4 separate regions of the Homo sapiens genome follow, and regions 1, 3 and 4 are each linked to region 2. Evidence: fine-mapped expression QTL. A gene starts in region 2. Each other region holds a variant in brackets. All regions are shown on one strand. Distances are from middle to middle.

Region 1 (6,065 bases), 67 kb before region 2:
TATTTCTCACATTTTTTGGAATTTTTATTGGTGATTCCTCTTTTTAAATGCCTCCCTAAAACAGTGCTGAAGCACTGTTCAGTGTTCCTAAGCTCAAGAAGGCTGTGATGTGCCTTATGGAGAAGATAAGTGTCTTAGATCAGTTTTGTTTAGGCATGAGTTACAGTGCTGTTGGCTGTTGAGTTTGATGTTAATGAATTAATAATATAGATTAAATAAGGTGTCTTTAAACAGAGACACACATAAAACAAGGTTATATATCAATCAGTTAACAAAAATATTGTGAGCAGAGGCTCTCAGGAACCTAACCCTCTATTTCCCCTAAGAGCAATGGTTCAATATTCACAAATTCAGTGTTTGTAGCAACTTTGTAGAACATAACTACTATGAATGAGAATCAACTGTGTATGTGTAGGTATACAGATATACATATATATATATGCGTGTGTATAGTATGTATATAAATGAAGTGCCAATGTTAACTTCATTTGTTAACAAAAATGACCAATGATGGCCAGCTGTACACACTCTCTATACAGGCATGATATTCCCCATCAAGAGATGAAGCTCATGACCGTGGTTGTCTTGACCAATAGAACACAGCAGATGTGACACAATCTGGGTACAAGCATGGACATGGCACTGGCACTCCAGCCTGGGCAACAGAGCGAGACACTCTCTCAAGAAAAATTTTAAAAAAAGAAAGAAAGCTCGGCAACTTTTTATTCCTCCTTCTTAGAACCCCAAGCTGCCACTGTGGGGTGGCACCTCAGAGAGCACTGAGGAAGGTCCACCATTCAGCCCCAGCAGCAGCCCCAACTGCCATCTGCTTACAACTGTAGGAGAGGAAGGCCATAAGAGCACTTCCCAACCCACAGGGGTGAAAGAGATGATTTCATGGTTGTGTAAGCCACTGAGTTTGTTTTGTAGGGGCAGATGGGGTAGAGTTGTTACACAGAAATCAATAATGAGACAGAACCCATGAGCCATGCCCCATGCCAGTGGCACAGTAGTGAGAGACAGAGCAGTGGCCACCCTCACAGTATTTACATTCTCAGGTGAGTGGTTTCTATGTCTACTCAGACTGGGAGAGACCTCATCTAATATCTTTTCCAACGTTTTTATTTATGGTGGAGAATCTGAATCCAAAGAGATTAAGTGACTTGTCCAGATCCACAAAGCAAGCAAACAGGACTCCTAGAAGGTGTGCTCTGAAAATTTCCTTTGGGAAGGTTTGGGGAAAGCAGCCTAATAAGCCAGTTTTGCCAAGGATGACACTTCTGGGAAGAAGAAAGAGGAAAACCAGGTGACTCCAGACAGACATACTAAAACAAAAGCAGAAAATAAGAGTTGGGTAAGCAGATCTCTCTCCCCTCCACCTCTGACCCTCCCTCCACAGGGCACGCACCTGAGGGCTGTGTTGGCTCCCGGTACTCTCCGCTGCTGATTTGCCGAATGAGGTTTTTGTGATCGAAACCATCGAAGGGCATTGTTCCATAAACAAGAGTGTAAAGCAACACACCCAGGGCCCAGCTGTCCACCTGGAGCAGAGAGACAGCACATATAGGAGAGCTGGGAAACAGATCCCAAGATGCCTTCCAAACCATTAGCATCATAGCCTGTGAGCAGCCACCCCCAGCAGCCCCAGGAACTGAATTTAGCACCTGGAAGATAGGTTCCTAGTGCAGCCTGACACCTGACAGCAATGCAGCTGGGACCTGCTACAGAGCCTGACCTTTCCATTCTGAACAGAGGCCAGTGGTCCCAACTAGTAAAGAACTTTCTTAAACAGATTATCTTCTTTAATCCTCACTACAATTTTGTGAAGCAGTTAGAGCCAGGACTATTTTCAGCCCCATTTAAAAGATGAGAATACTGAGGCACGAAGAACCTAAATGGTTTCTCCAGAGGCCCTGCCCCAGTGACGGAGGTAAAACTGGGATGCGGGGCTCTTCATTCCTAATCCAGGAATCAATTCCTTCCTGCACTTTCTTCAAATGAATCAGGAATTACAAACTGAAATCTTAACAGATATACACAAAGCAAGAAAGAATTGGGGTTATGACATAGAGTGTTGGGGATGGAGACAAACTGTACAGTACATTCACCCGTCTTAGGCAGACAGCCTCTCCTTAGCTAATTGCTGCCATGTAGTAACATGGGCCCAGCACTGCTCGATTCTTTGGTTTTACAAGAGAAGTCAGAAACCAAACTTTTACATGAAATCTCCCAATTATTACATGTTTGTTCAATTTTTTTAATAAAAACTAAGGTGGCCAAATAAAGGAGTTTGCTGACCAGATCACAGACTGCTAGCCTGGAACCTCAAAAACAGGTCATCGAAGACCAAAATATTCATTATCTATGAGAAATTTCGTGTCGAGTTTCTACAAGTTTGTAAATTGAGTTCTATGCTCCTCCCTCACATTCTTATTTTAGAAAGACTTTCTCTTCATTGCAGTTAATAGATGGTCTTGGCATCCTTCTCTTTACCCTTCAGCCCTGCCCCCAAACACTCTCAAACACATAAATATTTGAAAGAAAACATTTCAACACACTGAGCAGCTGCTATTTAAAGGATACTGAGTGGATGAACTCTGAAAAGAGAACCATCTTTCAAAAAGAGAATCATCACTCACAACTCACTCATTTTCAAAATAAAATTTCCATATACCCATATCTTACAGTGGCCCTTGAAAGCGCTAGCATGTAGGGAAATGTATTTCTCATGAATTAGAAGATGTCATTAAAATGTATTTCCTTAGTCAGATATGCATGCTGCCAAAAATATATACAAAAAAGATATTTACCCCAGAGTGAGGCAATTTTTTGTTTGTTTGTTTTGTCTGTTTTGATATAATAGGGAAAAAACTAAATGTTCACATCTAGACATTACTAAATAAATTTTGGTATATTCATTGATAAAATGTCATTAAAATCATGTTTTTAATAATGAATTTGGAAATTGCCACAAGATAGTTTTCATAGTAAAGGGCAAGATATACATACGTGTGTCACATACATATGTATATCTTGCCTTTTATTAACTTGATCTCAATTATTTTTGAAATGCAGAGATCTACATTGGGAAAAGTTTAAAAGTCACTAGAGTTTTAAGTGATTATCTTTTCTAGGGGGATGGCAGGTACCTTTATTTTCTCCTTTAGGCTTTTCTGGGTTTCCCAAATTTCCTCCCAGGAGTATACATTAACTGCTTTTATAATCGTATAAGGAAACGTTTTCCTTGCTGGCTTTTTTAGGCTCTGT[T/G]TTTTTAAGCATTTCTCGAATCCAGTTTTTGCCCTTCCTCCCTCTTCTCCCTCCCCTCCCCTGCCCCATACACATTGGGAAAGCTGCTCACCTCTGGCCCTCGGTAAGGTCTCCCATTGACAATCTCAGGAGATGCATAGAGTGGACTCCCACAAAACGTTTGTAAGAACTTATCCTTCTGGTACAGGTTGGAAAGCCCAAAGTCAGCAATCTACAAAGAGAAGCAAGACCCAGGGAGACTTGTTAGCATTCCAGATTATGTCTGTGTTGGATCAGTTCACACCACACAGCACACAGAGTGGATGAAGGGCACCTGGGTGGGTCTGCTGGCTGGATCGCCATTTTCTCTCCAGCCCTGAGTCTTCATAAAGGACCACTCAGCCCAAGCAGGTCAGTGTTTCCTAGCTGCAGTCCTTGGCATCCATCACAAGTTCTACCAAATCTGCAGACTACAAGCTCTGCAACTTACTTAGAAATTACTCTTTAAATGGATGCTCTATTTAAACTTTAATTTAGACTTGCTTTGAGAAATAACATTCACAAAATCACTGGCTTGATGTTTCTGATGAACATTAAAGTGTGTAACTATTAATTTAAGAATTCTCCCTCTGTGGTCTACCCAATTATGCTGCATCTGCGGTGGTGTGCATATCACACTGCGGAAAAACCCTGACCTACACAACTGGTGATACCACCTCTGTATCCACTCACACCCTGATCAGAACTGTATTTTGCCTGTCTTGTGACTCAAGATGAAATGGACTAATTGACTCACAGCATTGGGTTTTGAGTCATCATATTTCAGTCCCAACTCTGCTCCTATCTGTCACTTAATGACCTTGAGCCTCAGTTTACCCACCAGAAAATGGGAATCCATGATCCCTTCCCTGTTCTAGCTCACAGGATCATCATGAGAATAATAAGAAAAAGAAATCAATCGAGATGAGACCTTGGCCAGGCGGATCACTTGAGGTCAAGAATTCGAGACCAGCCTGGCCAACATGGAAAAACCCCGTCTCTACTAAAAATACAAAAATTAGCCGGGCGTGGTGGTGCATGCCTGTAATCTCAGCTACTCGGGAGGCTGAGGCATGAGAATCACTTAAACCTGAGAGGCGGAGATTGCAGTGAGCCAAAATCACACCACTGCACTCCAGCCTGGGCGACAAAGCGAGATTCAATCTCAAAAAAAAAAATAAGATGACACCGTGAGTGTAACAGTGGTTCATAACCTTCAAGTTTGATGCAAATGTTTCATCTAGCCTTGTTTTCATTGTACTCCACACACCTTGGAGTCATTCTCTTCTCCTTTGGTTTCTTGAAGTGTTTTATGTGTTATCATTTATGACAGCACTTTTACATATATATGTATATGTATATGTACACATATGTACAAATATACACATATACACATATATACATACATATACATATATATATTTGCTTTCCCTACCAGACTCTGAGTTTCCTGAGGCAGTTGGCAGGTTCCACATCCTCCCCTTATCTTTGTATCATCCACTGCTTAGCACCTGCCCACACCCAAGAAACACTTGTCACTGGTACAGGCATTATATTTTGAAAAGCACAAGATAATTAATATATAATGCAAAATAATAATAATAATAATAAACTTAGTTGCCACTTTTTGAACAACTTCCAATTATCAGGTACTGCTCCAAACACTTTATTTAATCTAATCTTAACAAAAACCTGGTTTACACAGCAATGTGAATGCCTTTCATGCCTAAAAAAGGTTAAAATAGTCAGTTTTATGTTATGTCCACTTTACCACACATTTTTTGAAAAACTCATTTAACAGATGAGGAAATTGAGGTTTAAGGAGTTTGAGGTTACTCATTTAAGGAGATGAGTAACTAATATGCAGCAATATAAACCCCCGTGTCTCTAAAGCTTCAAACCACAGTGCCACCCTGTCCCTGGGTCACCTGTATATTTCACTCCACTCTAAGCCAGCCTTGCAAGCTGAGCCCCTGTAGGTTTCCATCATTCTCCAAGCTGATTTCCATTTGAGGCTTGGAAATGAGCTGCATGATTCACATGCCCAGAGAGAGCCCAGCCTGAATACCACCGAGGCTCTGTGGTGGTCACAGCCCCTAGAAGCAGCCTATTTTGTAAAAGTCATCCCTGAATGAATGGAATGTCATTGAAAGCAGCTGGTGTACAACCAGCCTCAGAAAATGCATTCTCCGGGCTCAGATTGCACTTCATTGCCCTGAATTCCACTTTCTTATCAAGGCCCCTGACTTGCTTGCAGGAAGTTGGTTGGAAGCTTTATGAAGTGTGCCCTGTCAATCAGAAGAGGCATGGAATGGCTACGCACAGGAAAATGCATTCTCTTCCCGCCTGGCAGTGCCTGGGGCACCATATGAGCTTCCAAATACACGTGCGTGTGAGAGGCACCCGCTGCACATGCACACACTCACACCAGGAGTTTTCATTCCAAGTCTGGGCAGCCTCATTTGCTCTGTAGCCGTTCTGGAGAAGTGTGTTTATGTTATGGCCCACTCCTATCCTCACAGACTGATGTTTATCAGCCTCTCCCAGTAAAACTGTCATTGCCACTGACACAAGATTAATAGAAATCTAGATTAGCCTGTGTTCTTGGCACTTCGATGGGAAAGCAGTATTAATCAACACACACACACACACACACACACACACACACAGAGAGAGAGAGAGAGCGTTCTCAGATCTTGAGCCATTCAAACTTAGGCTTCGGCTCTAAGATTTAATGCCATACGGAACTTATATCAACTATTGATAAGAGGGGAAATGGC
Region 2 (6,065 bases):
TGTAAGCTCAGCTATCAAGGAGAAAGCAGCCCCATGAATAAACGAAGCATTTTAGAGACTGTCAGTTTCTGGGCGTGGGTCTGCTGCCAGATTTAAAATCTTTACATAATTTTGGGGTAAAACAAGAGATTTAGCTGAAATTAATAGCACAATGGGAAAATGAACTAGGGCTGAACAATAACACAGCGGGACTTCAGATTTGCGGCTGGTAAAGAAGCCTCTCTCGTTCTCAGGGCGCCCCCTCGTGGCCGCTTGACTAAATCCTGACGGAATGTTCAGTTTCTGCAAATACAGAGAAAGACATCCCCCAAAAGAGAAAGGCGGACTCCTGCCTACTGATGCAAATCCCTTTCACTCTAACCTAGTCTGTGGATCAGACAGCTCAAGAACGCCTGACAGGAAGTCCCACTGACGCTCAGAAAGGCGTCTGCCATAAGACAAGGGTTCGTTCGTTAGAAAGGTCTGAGGTAGTGCCCCAGCATTTAGACTTTGGGGTCCCTTCACAGACCCTAGACACACCCTTACCACTTCAACAACCCCTCATAGCCTCACATTCTCAACCTGCAGCTCGAACTGCGTCTGTTTTTCATTATTCTGCTTCCCACCTTCCCAGTGCGATTCTTCAGCAGCTATTAAGACAACATGAGCAGGGATCTAAGCTTAGTTTTTGCTTATTCAACATCCAGCCTGGGGAATATCACCTCAGAAGAAAAGCATGAATGAAGTGCACGTTTCCCAGCCTCTTCTTCCACAAACCTGAAATTGCCTTCATCAGAGGCCACCCTTACAACCCTCCCCTTTAACAATTTCATCCTACGAAAATGGCACCTGCCCAGAGTGAATTCTCAACTACTTGCTTGCTGTAGAATTTATTACAGAGCCAGCTTTAAAAAGAAATGTACGCCATCTCAAATTTCCAATTAATTGATAACAGATTTTTTTTTAAAATAACGTTATGGGACGAAGTTATATAGACCCAAACATCAAATCTGAGAAATGGGTTGGGAGGGCGTTATCCGGGTATCCAGATATTTGAGAATTTGGGGACTGAACTTTGCTGACTGGCACCCCCATGTTTTTTTCACAGAACTGTTCCTGCCGAAATGCAAAAGAAACATGTCAATACTAAGCTGCTATTTTATTTGACAGCTCATTTTCCTTTTTCCCTGCAGTCATTTGTTGTTTATAAGCAAACCTGAGCCTCCAAAACACCCCCAAAAGTGCACACAAGGAGTCCCATAATCAGTTTCTGACTTTGGCCCTAAATCGATTAGAATACATCTGATCTGCTTCAAATCAAAGAACCATGTTAATTTTCTGCCACACACCACACAAAATCTTTCTGCAACAGTCAGTCACTTTGAACCCAACTCTCTAGCCACAAGCAGTGTGGATTTCAAGGGCCTGTTCTGCAGAAGTGAAAATAACAACAAACCAAGGCTGGGACAAGGCAGACAGACCCCAAGGCACTCAAAGCACTCCTTGGAGCTGTGCAAATGGTGCCAGGACCCTGGCAGGGTGTCAGCTGTCACAAGAGCAGCGGGGCCAGACCCCTTCAGCGGTTTGGTAGCCCTGCAACCAGGAGCTGAAACACAACTGAGCCTGCTGCAACTAAGCACAGCTATCTCTGTAGCTACCCATGCCCTGGACATTTCGGTCCTCCCAAAGCCATGATGCAAACTGTTAGAATCCTCAGGCTTGCAGTAGTCTTTATTTTTGCTCCCTAACCTTGTCTCAAAAACAGGCAAGAGTCGCCCTCCCTTGCAGTCACAGCAGTATCAGGGCGATGCAGAGTCTGAGTGGGAGGATGCAGAGCAAGGAGCTGCGGGCAGATGGGTGGAAGGGGGTAGGGACACCTACAAAACACCGGACTTGAGGGGCTAGCTCCTAGCTGGGAATGTGGTTCTTTGGAGAGTTGTGGAAATAAGACGTTTCGGGGCATGGTCTAAATGAGTGCCTGCGAGGGAGAGAGACCCCGGCCGTCCCAACGCTGCAAAGTGTTTGCAAATCTAAAACATTCCTTTGCTGCTAGGATTAAATTTTTAAAAACAAACCAAAAAATAAAATAAAATATGTGCAGACAGGATGTAACAAGTGTTTCAGGACAGAGACACGCCTGAGTCACGGGGTGCTGGAGAAAGAGTGAGGAGTCTGTCTCGGGGCTTCCCAATGAGCCCCCTCTCTGTCAAGAGAGCCCCAGGGCGCACAGACCCCCGCCTCGCACGCCCTCAGTCCCCGGCCGCGTCCACCCAGCGCCCCCCGCACCCTCCAGGATTGCCCCACTCACCACTCGGCCAGAAAACCTCTCGGTGGCCCGCTTGACTTTGCCGTAGGTGCCTTTGCCCAGGGTCTCCTGCAGCTCGTAGCGGTGCTTCAAGTTGTGCTTGTGGTGATGCCGCTTCACCCCGTGCGGCTTCCTGGGCTCCAGGGCTGCAGTCGCCCCCGCCACCGCCTCTCGGGGAGAGCCCGGCGCCCCCAGCCCCAAGTCGGGGCGGTCCCCCGCCACAGGCGCGGCGGCCCCTTCCATGTCCAAGCGCGGGGCGAGCCGGGCTACAGAGGGCAAGACCGGGCACAGCGCTGGGATGTCGGGGTCCCCACCGAGGGAAGCCGCTGTACGCTCAAGGTCGCCCCCGCAGCATCAGGGAGGCGGCCCGATACCGCTCGGACTGCGGCTCGGTCACTGGCGGCGGCGGGGACTGCACATCTGGCGCCCGCGGCGCGCACGGTCCGCGCACCGCCCCCCGGCCGCGGCGAGCTGTGGAGCGTCGGGCGAGGTGGCGGCGGTGGCAGGGGAGGCGGTGGTGTTTGCAGGAGGGAGGGGAGAGGGTGGCTCGCAGCGCAGGAGGGGGAGTGTTATGTGGGGCGCCGCGCCCCCCAACCCCTCCCCGGGAGGACGCGCAGACGGGGCGGGGGCGGCGCTCGCGCGGCCCCAGGGGAGGGGGAGCGAGGGGCGGTGCAGCCAGGGCTTCCCCCACCTCCCTGCAGCCACCCGGGGCCGGGGCCGCCGTGAGCTGGGAGGGGGATGGGAGCGTGTCGCGACTCGCCCTTTGTGCGGCGCGGCGTAGGCCACGGCGGCGGCGGCGGCGGCGGCCAGGAGTGCTTTGTCCTCGCTGGGCCGGAAGGGACCGGGAAATTCCAAGCCGGGCGCCCCCTCCCCGGGCGCTCTCGGGCTCGCCAGTCGCAGCTACCGCGGGCCCTCCGCCGCCTCGGGCTCCGGGGCCGGTCGCTCGGCCTGGATTCCTGCTGGCGCCGGGGCGGCGGTTGCGGCTGGCCGAGCCCCGGGGCCGGGGAAGAAAGAGCGCCGCGAGCCGGGGGCCGCCGGGACCTGCTCGCGATACGGCCGGGGCCGCCGCGGGCCTGGGCGCCCCTTCATTTTCTTGTAGGTGTCGCCGCAGCCTGGCGGCCGGAGCTGGGGGAGGGGGCAGGGAGGCCTGGTGTTCGGTTACAGGCGGTGACTCACGGACCTTGCCCGCCCGAGGCTGGCACCCCGCGGGGCAGAGCTGCGCCCGCCTGGGGCAACTCCGAGTCCAGGAGAACCCCAAGAGCGGCGCTTTGGCCCCGGCCCCCGCGCCCTCTCCGAAGAAAGGAGAGTCAGGGACGGAGGGAGGCCGGGAGGCTGAACCCCGGGCCCGCCGTCGAACCGCCGGCCCTCCGACACCATCTGGACCCCGGCGGGGACAGCCGCCTGGAAGGGGAGGAAGGCCAGGGACGTGGAAGAGATGGGGCTCTAAAGGCGCCGGGACGGAGCTGGCTCCCCAGAGGCGCCCACCCTGCCAGCGAAGGCCGCCATCGGAGGTGGGCAAACCAGGGACCTGGGGTGGACCAGGACCCCGGGCCTGCTGAGCAACCCGTTTGCTGAGCAGGAGGCGATTTGCAGGCCTCTTGCCTCCTTAGGCCTTGGGAGATTTCCTTTCACTGAAAGGGCCAGATCCTGGCGATGGTGACAGGAACGGTACCCCGCACGGTAAGGGTCAGGCAGGAAGGGCCTCCCACCGCGGCGTGGCTGCCGCCGTTCTAAGAAGAGACCATGAAAAATAAGGAAGAAGGCTAGAGAAAAAGAGGTCTTAGGGAAATTTTTTTTTTTAACAAGTGGTGCAATGTACCAGACTAGGGTGGGAAGAGTGAAGGCTGAAGAAGGTCTGGTGTTCTGCAGATCGCATGGCGGTTCTTTTCCACCAGTGGACCTCACTGGGGCCTCCTCTGCAGCTCTCAGGTGCAGCCCTTCCTCTACATTCCCGCCGCCTTCATTCCTGTCTACCCCTGGTCACCTTACCCCGGACTCCAGCAACAGCCCGCTCTCCCCAACCCTCCCCGGGAGCCTCCTCACTGCTGCCAGAGTAATGGCCTGAAACACTGCCCTCATCCTCCACACGTGTCTCTGCTGTACTCTGACGCGTGATATTCTTACCTGTCCAAACTTTCCTTCTACTGATATTTCACACAAACTTCCCTGCCCCTTCTTCCCTTCCCCAGGAGCAATGACAGAACACAGACACAAAGGCGCATCATGCCTATTCAATTCCTATTCTGTCCACCGCATTTGCAGGGCCTCCCTGCCACCCACCCCCATCCTGAAACTGTTCTGCTTCTATACAGTTTGTGGACGTTGTGCCTATAGATCCCACAGTCAGGATGAGTGGCATGCAGGTTGAGTCCTGGCTTCCCAGAGGATTGGCTGTGTGGCCTTGGTCAAATGACATAACCTCTCAGAGCTTCGGTTTTCTCTTAAGATATGGATTTAGCAGATCTATTGTAGAGATAAACACATTGTGTCTACAGTAGTATTTTAAAATATTTTCTACTTCTTCCCCTCCCCTGCGATGTGGTAGAAATCCACTACCCCATCCTCTTGAAGTTAGATGAGACCATCGGACTTGCTTAGGCCAATGGAATGAGAGCAGAAGTGATTGTGTTGCTTTCACTTGGAACCTTTAGGAGCCAGTGAGCAAATCCCCATGTCTTCTTTTTCCTATCTTGACAATCATGGTGGTACAAAGTTGGAGCCTCCCCAAGCCAGCCTGAGTCTCTGTGTAAAGATGGCAGAAAATCCCAGCCAATCTGCATTGGAAAAGTAGTGTCAGCAAATATTAAACTTTATTTATGTTAAGTCAGTGGGATTTGTTAAAGCAGCATAACCTGGCTTATTCTGGCTGATAGTGTTACTCCCAGATATGTGGGACTTCATCAGTATCTATTGAATCAACAGCATCATCTACCATAGGCTGGTACTGTTTTATGACAGTAAACCCTCCTCTGTAAAGTAGCTGTTTACAATCCCTATTTTCAATTGAAGAAACCGTATCAGAAAGGTTAAGTAATTTCCCAGAGGTTACACAGTTTGTAAATGGCAGGACCAGGATTTAAACCCTACCTGTCCAGTTCCAAAGCTCCCCCTTCTCCTTTCATATATGCCATGCTCCGTCTCCTTAAATGGGAAGGATGAAAAACACCCAGTACAATGCCTAGCACACAGTCATGCCCAGGCACTGGGAGTTCCTCTCCAGACTGAATTCCTACCACGTTTATAATTGGAACCACACTTCAGCACAATGCTATCAGGCATTGTGTGTGAATGTTTTCACATCGATAAAGCATTTTCTCCAACAAGAGCCCAGGCTCCTTGATTAAGAGCTTCAGATCTAGAGGCAGAGTGACTAGGTTCAAATCCCTGTTCCACCTCTTATGATCATCTTGGATAATTGTTTTCCCCCTCTATGCCTCAGTTCTCTAATCTGCAAAGTGGCGATGGTAACTTTCATGTGCGTCTGTGTGAAGAGACCACCAAACAGGCTTTGTGTGAGCAATAAAGCTTTTAATCACCTGGGTGCAGGCGGGCTGAGTCCAAAAAGAGAGTCAGCAAAGGGAGATAGGGGTGGGGCCGTTTTATAAGATTTGGGTAGGTAAAGGAAAATTACAGTCAAAGAAAGGGGGGTTGTTCTCTGGCGGGCAGGGGTGGGGGTCGTGAGGTGCTCAGTGGGGGAGCTTTTTGAGCCAGGATGAGCCAGGAAGAGCCAGGAAAAGGACTTTCACAAGGTAATGTCATCACTTAAGGCAAGGGCCGGCCA
Region 3 (6,065 bases), 27 kb before region 2:
CACTGAGGAAACTAAAAGGGCTCCATAAATGTTAATAAGCATAGTGGCTGTCTCTCCACAAAAATTTTCCCTTTTCCTACAATGATTTTTCCACTGAAAATGTAAAAGAGGGTGCATTCTGCTCCCCTGTTTCAAAGGGGTGACAGGAAGTCAGGAGGAGACAAATGCTAGAAATCACTCTCATCTGTGCACCTGCCAAGGCTGGAGGGAAGACATTCAGCTCTACTCCCAGAGTGGTGGCGGACCCATCCAAGGTTCAGACAGCCGGTTAATGACAAAACAAAAAAGCACTACTACTACTAATAGTAATGGCCAGTATTCATTAGCCACTTAATATATGGAGCAGACACCGTGCTGAATGCTTTACATGCCAGGGATCTTTGCACCCTTCTCATTTAAGCCTCAGCTTCACACCACCCTCTCAGGGAGATCCTTCCTGATCCCTCTAGCTGATAAGGCCACACTTATGGCCACCTCCCTCTCTCTATACCCTTCCCATTTTATCTTCTCTGGAGCATTTCACACCAACTACTTTATTAGCCACATATTCAGCCTGTTTTTGTAGGACCCAGGGAGCTAAGAATGATTGTCATATTGTTTAAGGGTTGTTAAGGAAAAAAAAAAAAAAAAAAAGAAAATCTCTAACGCAGCTCCTGCAAAAGTATCTGCTTCAGGAAGTTGAAGGATACACTGAGCCAGTGCACAGACAGTATTGCATAATGCTTAGGAACATGGCTTTAAGTCCAGGCTAAAATCACCCTCTAGCTGTGTGACCCTGGGCAGGTTACATAACCTCTCTGTGCACCAGTTTTCTCATTCATCTAGTAGAGAAATAATAGTACCTGCCTCATAGGTCCTGGTAAGGATTACACATCAGGTGCTCAAGAATACACCTGGGCCAGGGGGTAACTGCTAAATAAGTGTCAGTCTTTTTTAACCCAGAGTGAGTGTTCTGTAAGTAGAACCTTCCCTTCTTCCTTTCTTTTTCAGAGCAAACTTGAATTCCTCCTGGCTCCTCAAGAGACAGTGAGTGGAGGTCTTAGGGACATGTTTTCATAGTACATAAAGGACAAGAGCATCTCCATCCTGGGTCTTTACATTGCAACCTCATCTGAAATCAGGAAGATCAGATCAGCTGGTTACACACCATTATCAGCAGGGCTCCTGAGTCCAAACCAGACAGGAGGATGAACATCTTGAACCCAAAAAGCAATCCCAGGAGCATTTCTCCACCCGCTCCCACACTGTCTCCTTTCACCATTCAGCTGAACAGGGCACAAATATGTTCCTACTTAAAATCAAAACTCAGCCTCAAGATATTCACACTTCAGCCTTTATGAAATTTGACTGTTCATCCACTTGTTCTTTTTGAAAACCTACCAAGTACCGGCTACACAAAAGGGAGCCAGCGCGACTGCTCCAGCCCTCAAGGTGGGAGGTGGGGTGGGGAGGGTACGGGCAATAAGCAAAACTCACACCAGTAATTACATAATTACCCTCATGGCCAGGGCTACCAAAGAAATGCACAGACATGCCCGGCATTGCGGAGGAAACCTCCTCTCCAGTTTTCCTCAATTCTCACATCTACAAAGAAACACAGAGGTAAGGAAGGGGCCCAGCAGGAAGAGATTACCAAATGTCTGAAATCACACACCCTCCACCCCTAAAAATCCCATTTGTTCCTGTACAAGTCAGAGAGCCTGAGAGGAGGAGGGAACTCAGGTGTTTGAGCCCGACTCACAGTACAGCCACATTCATAAATGTTCCCAAGTCTAGACAGTACCATGTGCCTTATAAAATGGTCTGCTTTTAAATAAGGCCACCTTATGGTTTAATGTTTAAACCTTCTGCAGCAGCAGGTTTGGTGGAGAACCTGTGAATCCCGCCCTGCAGTGCCTGCCTGTTTCAGAGGCAAACTCAGCCCAGCCAATTCTGTTACATGCAACAGGCACAGCCTCCTCTTGAGGGTTGGAGGTTTTTCCTTTTTTGAATAATCACCAAAAACCACCTGCTCTGTGGCCTGCTGGGCATCCTCTCCCACATTGGCTGCTGTGGGTGTTCAGAGCTTGGTGACCTAGGAAGGGCTGGGGGATGCAGAGTAGAAGAGTAAATGCTCAGACTGTCACCGGCTGGGTGACCTCAGGCAAGCCCAAACTTCCCAGGTCTCGGTTTCCTCACCTGTAAAATGGGGTTACAAAATCCTGTTTCTTGGGGTTGTTGTGAGGAGTGGAAACTAGGTAAGTAAAGGCCCCAGCACACAGTATTCACTGAATGGCAGTGATTATAAACCACACTTAAGAGGTAATGAGCCCACAGCAAATCATATCATAGGTCTCTTGGCTCCTCTCCACCCCCACACATATCCTCCCCTCCCCACATTTGCACAGTGGCAAAAGCAGGTTAAAATTAATATCCGGCCAGCCCCAGGGTGTCCTGGTGTCTTATGGAGAGGACGCCTGTGTAGTGTAGGACCAGCCTTGGGGGCGTGGCAGAGAGTCTGGGCAGGTTGTATGTCGTCGAGGCTCTAACCAAGAGAATCCCTGCCCTCCTCCTTTTGCAACCATCTCCCTGCATGCTCATTCATTGATATAAGCTGGACTTCAAGGAGTATTCTTGAAGTGCCTCTCAAATAGGAGTCACCCATGCATCTTGAAAAAGTGCAGATTCTGAATCCATAGGTCTGGGTATCCAGCCTGGGATTCTGCATTTCCAGCAAGGTCCCAGGTGATGCCAGCCCCAGGGACCACACTTGGAGTAGCCAGGTCTTAGTGCTTCGTCTTTGACCCTCAACATTTTTAAATCAGTGGCAATATTCTTAATAATAGCAATAATTAATATTTCTTAGGTGTTAATCATGTGCCAGTGGACCTTATCTCATTTAAGCCTACCTACAATCCTATTTTACAGATGAGAACATTGAGGCCAGGAAAGATAAATATTTCCCAAAGTTACATAGCCTGTAAAAAAAAAAAAAAAAAAAGTGGAGCTAGAATTCGAGCCCAGAGGCTGCTGATTTTTAAGGCTATGAATAAAGTTGGGATGAATAGAAAACATCACAGGGAACAGAATCTCCTGTAGGATCCGAAAGGGTCCCTAAAGCCTAGTGAGATGGACCCCC[C/A]TCCAAGCAGATGAAGTTTTACAGGGTCATATGTGAGGTCCCAAAAGGAGGGACTGGAGGGCTGAGCAGCAGGGAAGAAACACAGTCATAAATATGGCATTAGCATCACTTAGTGAGAACAAGTTTGCATCCTAATCCCAGCAACACGAGCTGGCAACTTCCCTGCCATTCACAAGGTGTGATCTCATACCCAGGCACGTTCCACGGGAGCTGCAGGGCACGAAGTCAGAGGCAGCTCAGGGGATCTCTCCTTACCTAGGAGCCCAGAGGCCGCCTGCAGCAGGAGCAGGCAGCCAAGCCCGGCTGGAGGCTGTAAAGTGCTCCTGCTCTTGCCTGGGAGATGCACAGAGTGTGGGGCAAGGCACAGCCCCACCGAGGCCACACCGGTCCAAAGCTCCCAGGATCACCATGTGGCTTTCACTCAAAAAGCCTCTGGCCGAGGACAGTCACCACGGTGATGCCACCCATCTTGCAAACAAAGCCCCTAATTAATTAAATGACCCCGGGCTCTTTATGGAGGGGCCTGGCCAACTCAGAACAACACCCCAGCAAGTTGCTGTGATGCAACGGGCCCCATGGGAACCAAGCCAGCTCTGCCTGGGGGCCCATGGGCCTCTTCTTCCCTTCCTCTTTAGCCTGTTGGTTCATGTCCTACATGAATGTATTTCAGAAAGAAATGGATTGGAAGCCAAGAGTTGTATCAACAGGCTCTGAGGCGAGGCACTGAAGCCAGGGAGCATGGTATGTGTAGCTAGGAGCTTTTCCTTCAAAGAGTGGCATCCCCTCACTGGCCCTCATCAGCCCTTTAATGTTGTAAGAGGTTCTGAAAATTTAATCCTCTGTAACTTGGTTCTCAAACCTCTATTTCTCAAAATTCTACATAAAAGAGATGATGATTCCTGTGATGATATTGATTTCTCTCCTGCCATAAAAAATGCATTCTATTTTCAGAACATAAAAAACAAAGCAGATTCGTGCTTGACTGGGCCTGGGCCAGCTCAGGAGGACCTCAGGGCTGGGACATTTTTATCTACAGGGACAGTCATTCCTTGGTCTCTAAGACTCACCCCCACCCCTCTCCCCTTCAAAGACTGAGCTAAGAATGTCATTGCAAGTGGTGATGCCACAAGGGAAGTGGAATTAATGACTAAGAAACCGTGGGCAGATTCACACTCCCTGTTGAGGTTTGTAAACATAAGATACAAACCGTGGCTGACCAGGCAAGAACCAAAGAAATAGCAAAAAGGCCACCGGAAAGTTCGTGCTGAGTGGGCATGCCAAAAGTGAGCCACAAACCCGCCTGAAAAGGACAGTCAGAGACTCTAGAGCACTATCTGTCCAAGGGTGGTGAGCAGATCACCTGCCTCCGATCCCCTGGTTAGGGGGAAAGGGGAAACTGATTGCTAAAATGCAGATTCCTGGGCCCACCCCAGAGCTAGTGAATGAAGGTGGCAGTGTTCAGGGTAGGGGGCAGACCTGGTATCAGCATTCTTTACAGCCTCCCAGGTGATTCTGCTGCACTCTGAGGTTTGAGAGCAGTCACCTTAAAGCAGGGTAAATGTGGCCCTGACGACACCTATTGTTCTGTAGCTTAAACAGGAAGCAGTTATATTACATACTAGATGACTGATGAAAATTAATGAACCTTCCATTTATACACAGAGGAATTAAACACAGGCTTCCTTGAGGGGGCTCAGTGACTTGAATTAATTTACCCCTGGTAAATGGAAAGTTTGCTTCCAATGGGTATCTCCCTAGTCCCAGCCCAAGGAGGGCCTGTGGATGAAGTGATGCCAGGGAATGTGGGTGTGGATGGGTTACTTCACAGTCTACACATAACCCGGAGCACGAAAAAGCCTCTGGTAACACAAGAGACGCTAACACAGACAATATCAGATTCAAAGAAAGACTGAAAATGCCAGGCCATTTAGCTGAGACTGGAGTTGCCAAGCAGCTGTTTATTTTTGGACGTTCACGTCTCTGAAGCCAAATGCAACACCAAATCAGAATTCTAAAGTGCAACTGTTTTTCTTCCAGGTTACAATTGCCCTGGGAAGGGAGAGAAAGGGCTGGGCCAGAGGGCTGAGGTTGCTTACAACTTGGACAGCCTCAACTGGTAGCATCTGATCACTCTGACACTGTTTATAACAAGGCTTGGATAAGCTTAAGGTTGTGCAACTTTTATTTATCAACCTCCAAACCCAGAAGAACCCGAGCCAGTACTGCTAAGAAATCCAGCATCTGCACCTTGGGCTTGTCATCAGTCACAGCAACCCAGCCAAGGCGACTCCTATAAGGAGAGGGACTCGGATAATCACGCCACCGGCTCAGTTTCCTCACCTGCAAATGAGGATGATGATGGTACCAACCTCACAAGGTTGCTGTGGCAACATGGCAGATTGTGTATATGATGGAAGGCAGAGAAGGCAAATAGTACCTACGGCAGAAGCCAAAATGAGGACTGTTATCATGAGTAGATGTTAGAGCTGTAAGGACTTAGAATGCTCTATGCCAATCTCCTCATGTTACAGATGGGGAAACTGAGTCCCAGGGAGGTTAAAGTACATACAGGCCCCAAGTTCACGAAGTTATCAGCAGCACTGGAATTGCAACAAGAGAGTCCTGATTCCCACTCCAGGAGGGATAAACACTCTGAGCAAGGGGTCCTTCCTAATCAAATACTAAGCCACAGTGAGCAGCAGGGCTGAAACTGCCACAAAAAAAATTCAACATTTACATGGGAGGCTGGCTCCAGTCACAGCCAAGTCCCCAGAACTGTTGCATCATTAATAAACCGAGATGGGAGTGGCAGATACTCTTCAGGGTGCTGACAAATCATGACTTGTGCTGCAGCTTGGTGTATTTCACCTCCATCTAATGTCTGTCCTCACATAGCTATGCCAGAGACGCTGTTTTCAGTTCAGTTCTATCCAAACTTTCCTCCAAT
Region 4 (6,065 bases), 90 kb before region 2:
CCTCCTGACTGACACCCTGGTTGGCTGTGGCCTAGTAACATGGGTTAACATCAACCCTCTCTATTTCAGTAATTATTAAAACTAATAATGATGATTAATCATAATTAGCAGTAATTGTAGTCAACCATCCCACTGTACTTTATAATGTATGAAAACAACTTCCCTTACATTATCTCTGCTATTATTTTCCATTTTGCTACCTGTAAAATATCAGTGATATTCACAACGATATCCTCCTCGGAGAGTGATGTGAACACTAAGTGAGATCATGTGTGTCAGATGCCTAGCACAGAGTAGGTGATCAAGAGTTCACATGCTTAATTCCTAAACTCTACTGCATAGGCCTACATGTGTGCAAAACTAGTGAATATTTATGTATCGAATATTTATTTTCTATATTTGAATATTGAATGTATATCTATATTGAGTATACGTATATATTGCATATTTATCATAAATAACGCCTAAATGAACCAATTCTTGTCAGTGCTCATAAGTCACCTTCACAGATGGTTTTTATTGGAGGTCATCCCAGGGAACTTTTGAATTGGGGTTTCCTCTCTGTGGAGCCTGAGCTTGGCTTGTTTCCATTTAGCCTGGTCCTCACACCAGTGACAGTAACTAAACCACTTTTAATCAGTGGCCTATGACTGGACCTGCTCCAGATATCTCAAATCAGGAAATAGATCACAAACGAGGCCTTCTTTTTGTTCTTTCTGTCACTGGCCTGGCTCAGAGCTGGGAGGATAATGGGGCAGGAGAAGAGAGCTGTGTTAAGGATGCCAGATAGGGCTCAGAGTACTGAGTGCACTGGGTGGAGCCCCTAACCCACAGACTGGTCTCTATGATTAGCGTCCATTGTACCCAGGCAGAGTCCCAGGTGGGTGGGATTCCATCTCATTTCCTTTGCAATGCTTGGTGGAGAAGGACAGTAAAGGGGGCAAGGAGAGGCAAGACAGAAGATGAGGTTCCCCAGTGGTGGTCTCATCAGCAGAGCCTCAACATCCCTTGTCTAAATTTCAAGTTGAGAGAGAGTAGGCCATGCTACACAATATATACTAACAAAAGGGGACCAACTCAGAACAGATGTCTGAAAGCATATTTCACTAAATAGGGAAAAATAATTAAAGTTCTGCCATGCCCAAGCCTCAAAAGCAAACGGGTCAGAGCTGTTTGGCCAGCTACTGCTCCCATTCAACCTGTCTCCCCAGAGTTCTCTGAACCACGCACCAGATAGAATCCACCTGCCTCTTCTTTCCTCAGAAAGGATCTGAAACTTGACTGTCACTGCAAGAAGAGGCCACAGGATGTGCATATAAAGTAGGTGACCTGAGTTCAAGTTTGAGCTCTGCCCTGTACAAGCTCAGGATCTTGGGAAAGGAGCTTCACCTTCCTGGCAGCCTTGGTTTCCTTATCTATTAAGTGGGGATAATAGTAGTTCCCTGCTGGGTTGTTATGTGGATTAAATGAGATGGTACAGGATGATTTGCCATTTTCTGTGAGTCATTTTTTGGCTGCACAGCAGTTGAACCTTCTGGGCCTGTGACCCAGCCAGACACACCTGCTCAGAGTTTTAAATCTCAAAGTAATGATCCACAGACGCAGGGACAAGGCAGGATCCATTTAGGCAATACTGTATTCACCAGAACCATCCCATTTTCTAGAGCAGTGGTACCGCTAGCAATGCCCAATGGCCAAAGGCCAGAGCTGGCTGTGGTAGCAAAGCCGCCACAATGCCAGGGGACAGCCAGGGTAGCTGTGGTCCACCCAACACCCTGGCTCTATGGTCCAATTTTGGCTGAGTTCTGGCCACCTTGCTTCCTCTATATTCCCAACTATTTCCCAAGCCTTGTTTTCCAGCCTTCTTGGAGTTTCTGGGAGATGCCTTATATTCTTTCATAAATTTTCTTTCTGGCTTAGATTAGCCAAAGACCCTTTCTATTCCTTACAACTCAGATCCCGGTCTGGTATAGCAGTCAAAGGACTTGGCATGGTGTCTGGTCCGCAGCAAATGTTCAGTGTATGCTAATTTCCCTGTGTGTCAGTGATGTCTCCTTCCTATTTCTGTTCCCTCATAACCATAAACATAATCATTATTATTGGTTTCTGATTTATCTTTCTGGCTTTTTTGTGTGTGTTAGTTTTCTATTTGTATTAGTTTGTATTGGGGCTGCCATAACAAAGTACCACAAATTTAGGGGCTTACAAACAAAAACCATTCATTATATCAGGGTTCTGTAGCTCAGATGTCTGGCATGGCATGGCTGAACTCTGCTCAGGATCTAACAAGGCTGAAAAGGTGCCTGCAGAGCTGCATTCTCTTCTAGAGGCTCTAGGCTGAAGCCCCTTCCAAGCTCACTCGGGTTGCTGAAAGAATTCAGCTCCTTCCAGCTGTAGGACTGAGGTTCCCATTTCCTTGACCTGGGACCCCCTCCATCTTCAAGCCAGCAACAGAGCTTTGAATCCTTCCCATTCTTAAAATCTCTCTGACTTTCCCTTCTGCATTCCCCTTCTGCAATTAAGGGCTTGTGTGATTACACTGAGCCTACCTGGCTAATCCAGGATAATGTCCCTATCTTAAGTCAACTCATTGCTAACCTAGATTTCCTCTGCAAAGTCCCTTTTGCCATGGAAGTAACTAACATGCAATGCCCCCAGAATTAGGGCTGGAGTCTTGTGGGGGCTGTGAGCCTGCCCACTACACTCTCCTTCCCAAAGTCACCTGGAAAATGCCTCCATTTTCTCTTCTTGCTAAAACTGTTGGTATCACCTGGACAATGTTTTCAAGTGATATCTGTGGCAATGTGCTGGAGGAAGCAGAGAAGAGACCAAGCAGTCAGGGACTCGGCTCCAAAAATATCTAAAGAGCTTCAGTGAAAGATGAAGAGAGCGGAAACCAGGCAGAGAAAGCAGAAGGGGCACCGAGAGTGATGAGGAAACCAACTAGAGATGGAGGGAGGGAAAGGAGAGGGGAGGCAGGAAGCAAAGCTGGCTCTTCCCAGCCTTCCATCCAGGCATCCCGTGCCAGAAGGCAAAATGCAAAACCAACAACGAGGAGAGGCAGATTTGCTAAGTGAGAAGAAAGGGATTTTTACTTGAACACGTTGAATTTGAGAGGCCTGAAGAACAAAGTGAAGATGTGTCTCCATGTCCAGGGAGGAGGCAGAGGAAACTTGAGAAAACTCAAGCTAAAATAAAATAAAAAATATATAAAATAAAATTTTAATAGTGAAAGCAAAGGAGAGAGAGGGAGGAGAAACTCAGAGTGGAAAGGACAGGCAGGGGAGGAAGGACGAGAAGCAGTGTCTCAGACATACTGACAGCGCCGCACAGGAGTCACAGCTCCCGGCTCTGGCTGCTCACAACACGTGATTTCAAATTCCCATCTGCTGCAGAAGGCTTTTATGCTTTCATGTGAGTCTGCGGCCCAGCACAGGCCTGCAGATATAAAGGCTGCTTAGGGATGTTCTGGAACTCCAGATGGCAC[C/T]CTGGGATTCCTGCCTACATGCCTTATGCTTCCTGGGCCCAAGAAAGATGCTGCCACCTGAATTCTCCCCCGTTCCTGCCCACCATCTCGAAATGACTCGCACAGCAGCCTCTCCCTCTCTCCCTCTCCTTTCCCCTTTCTGCTCCTTAGGTCTCTGCCCCAGGATATAATGGAAAGACCAAGGATTCTGGAATCTGACCTCTGGAACCTAGGTCAGTATCTTCATCAGCTGTGTACCCTTGAGCAAGTTACTTAGCGTCTCTGAGGCTGATTGTTCACATATAGAATGGAATCAGCAACACCTATCTCAATAGGCCTGTTGTGGGTTAAATGCCTAGCACAGTGCCTGGCAAGAAGGAGAAGCCCAATCGATGTCTGTCCCCATCCTCCAGCCTGGCACACAGGCCTGTGGGTCTGTTTTCAGAGGCAAACAGGTCCAGCCAAAACCCCCAGGGCCAGGATGACTACGCTGAGCACAGCTTTATGGTCGGGGAACTGAGTTGCCATCTGTCTTTGCTACTGATTGATACAATCTTTGGCCCGTTATCACCATGGCCTCACTGAGCCCTGATTTCCTCATCTATAATATAGGGACAGTGACAGCATGCACCTCCACTGAGGATCTCTTATTTGCCCTGTATTAGTCTGTTCTCATGCTGCTAATAAGGACATACCCATGACTGTTTAATTTATAAAGGAAGGAGGTTTAATTGACTCACAGTTCCATATGGCCGGAGAGGTCTCACAATCATGGCAGAAGGCAAGGAGGAGTAAGGTCTCATCTCACATGGTGGCAGGCAAGAAGAGAGCGTATGCAGGGGAACTCCCCTTTATAAAACCATCAGCTCAGCTCTCGTGAGACTTATTCACTATCACCAGAACATCATGGGGAAAACCTGTCCCCATTATTCAATTACCTTCCACCAAGTTCCTCCCAGACATGTGAGAACTATGGGAGCTACAATTCAAGATGAGATTTGGGTGGAGATACAGCCAAACCCTATCATGCCCCTTCAGGTGCATTCTCCACCTGCTCTGAGCCTTGGAAGCTGACCTGTGTCAACTACAGGAAGGGATATCCACCCTCTGACTTCAGCAGAGGTTCAGCAGTCATTTCCCAGGCTCCCTCCCTGCAAGTTCACCTCTGGCTGGCTGCTTTCCCTGGTGACAGCTCCTGTCAAGGAAGCCCTCTTGATAGCTCTCTCCTTCTAGAGTCCAGCAACTGCTCCCTTCCTCACACTGTCATTACTATCTGTGTAGGGAAAAACTCTCTCAAACTTTGCTTTTCTTCTGCTTTCACACCACCACAACAATCATCAACACAGAAGACTTTTGTAACAAAGATGTGGAGATTCGTCCCCACACACCAAGCAGCAGACACCAGTTGGGCATCCTCCAATTCAATTCCAACACTATCTACCTGGAGATAGGGTCAGTCCCCAAGACTCCCTTTCTCTCCTGCACCAAGACACCAGTCACAAGTCTGGACTTCTAGAAGTTCTGACCAAGTGGCTTCAAGTTGGGGTTCCCACGACCCCTGTTTTGGGTTTAATTAATTTGTTAAGGCAGCCAGAACTCAGGGAAATAACTTAAGTTGACTGGTTTATTATAAAGGATATTGCAAAGGATACAGATGAAGAGATACTAGGGTGAGGAATGAGGGGAAGGGGTGCAGAGTTTCCATGCTTTCTCTTGCTTGGAACATGTGCAAGTTCCTGGGTGCACCACCCTCCAGGAACTTCCACATGTTCAGGTATCCAGAAGCTGTTCTTCTGTTGCAAGTGACAAGAACCCAAATCAAACTAATTCAGCCCAAAAAAGGAGAATAACTCTCATCACTGTGAAGTCTCAGGTTAGTGTTTGCTTTGGGGGCAACCTGGCTCAGAAGATCAAATGATGCTACAATACGCATTTCACTTACTCTCTTAGTTCTGTGGTGCTCTTTCTTGGCTTCATTCTCAGGCCATCTCTGTTATCACTTGGTGATAAAAATGGCTACCAGTAGTATCTCTAGGTTTACATCATCCTCATGGTGATTCCAGAAAAAAAAAAAAGAAAGAAAGAGAAGATGATGACAACAATCATCACAAATCCCTCCCCGTCAACATCCATACTTGATCACCCAAATGGCATTGATTGGTCGTGTTTGGGCTTTAGAATGAACACTGAACCAATTATTAGGTCTAGAAGAAAAAAAAAATTGAACTAGTCAGAGTGAGTGAAGACCTTGTCCCTGTAGTGTGAAAGGTAATTACAGCCAGGTGAGGTCCCACTGAATCACATTACCTTGGGAGAAACAGAATCCCAAAAGAAGTGATACAGAACTGACACAAAGCAGATTTCCATATAGGACCATATAGATTTCCACTATAGGACCATTAGGGGCACAGACTATATAGTCAATAAATGCTATCAGAATGGAAACTAAGAGTTCTGTGAGATTAATACTTTCTCCTCTCTCTGCCCTCTCACTCCCATCTCTTTCTCCCTCTCCCCCGAGTCTCTCTGTTTCACATATATATTCACATACACACACAAAGAAGTGGTTTCAAATAGTCCCTGGGGCACTAACAGAGGA

The links. PIP is the estimated chance that this variant, and not a neighbour inherited with it, causes the effect.
Region 1: its variant is fine-mapped to the expression of NUAK1 in whole blood (TOPMed, PIP above 0.99).
Region 3: its variant is fine-mapped to the expression of NUAK1 in whole blood (TOPMed, PIP above 0.99).
Region 4: its variant is fine-mapped to the expression of NUAK1 in cerebellum (GTEx, PIP above 0.99).

The regions. Positions count from the first base shown.
Region 1 is chr12:106,069,366-106,075,430 of GRCh38, forward strand. NUAK1 (NUAK family kinase 1) reads right to left here. Exons shown (of 7, transcript NM_014840.3): 5 at 3,359-3,478; 6 at 1,409-1,541. Among named protein-coding and RNA genes, the nearest start is that of NUAK1, 67 kb to the right of the region's middle. The variant T/G (reference allele first, on the strand shown) is at 3,268.
Region 2 is chr12:106,136,127-106,142,191 of GRCh38, forward strand. NUAK1 (NUAK family kinase 1) reads right to left here and starts at 2,828. Exons shown (of 7, transcript NM_014840.3): 1 at 2,288-2,828. The coding sequence starts at 2,527. RefSeq lists enhancers at 1,257-1,758, 4,150-4,769.
Region 3 is chr12:106,108,942-106,115,006 of GRCh38, forward strand. All of the region lies in intron 1 of NUAK1 (NUAK family kinase 1), which reads right to left. Among named protein-coding and RNA genes, the nearest start is that of NUAK1, 27 kb to the right of the region's middle. RefSeq lists an enhancer at 1-170. The variant C/A (reference allele first, on the strand shown) is at 3,119.
Region 4 is chr12:106,045,869-106,051,933 of GRCh38, forward strand. No RefSeq gene overlaps it. Among named protein-coding and RNA genes, the nearest start is that of NUAK1, 90 kb to the right of the region's middle. The variant C/T (reference allele first, on the strand shown) is at 3,488.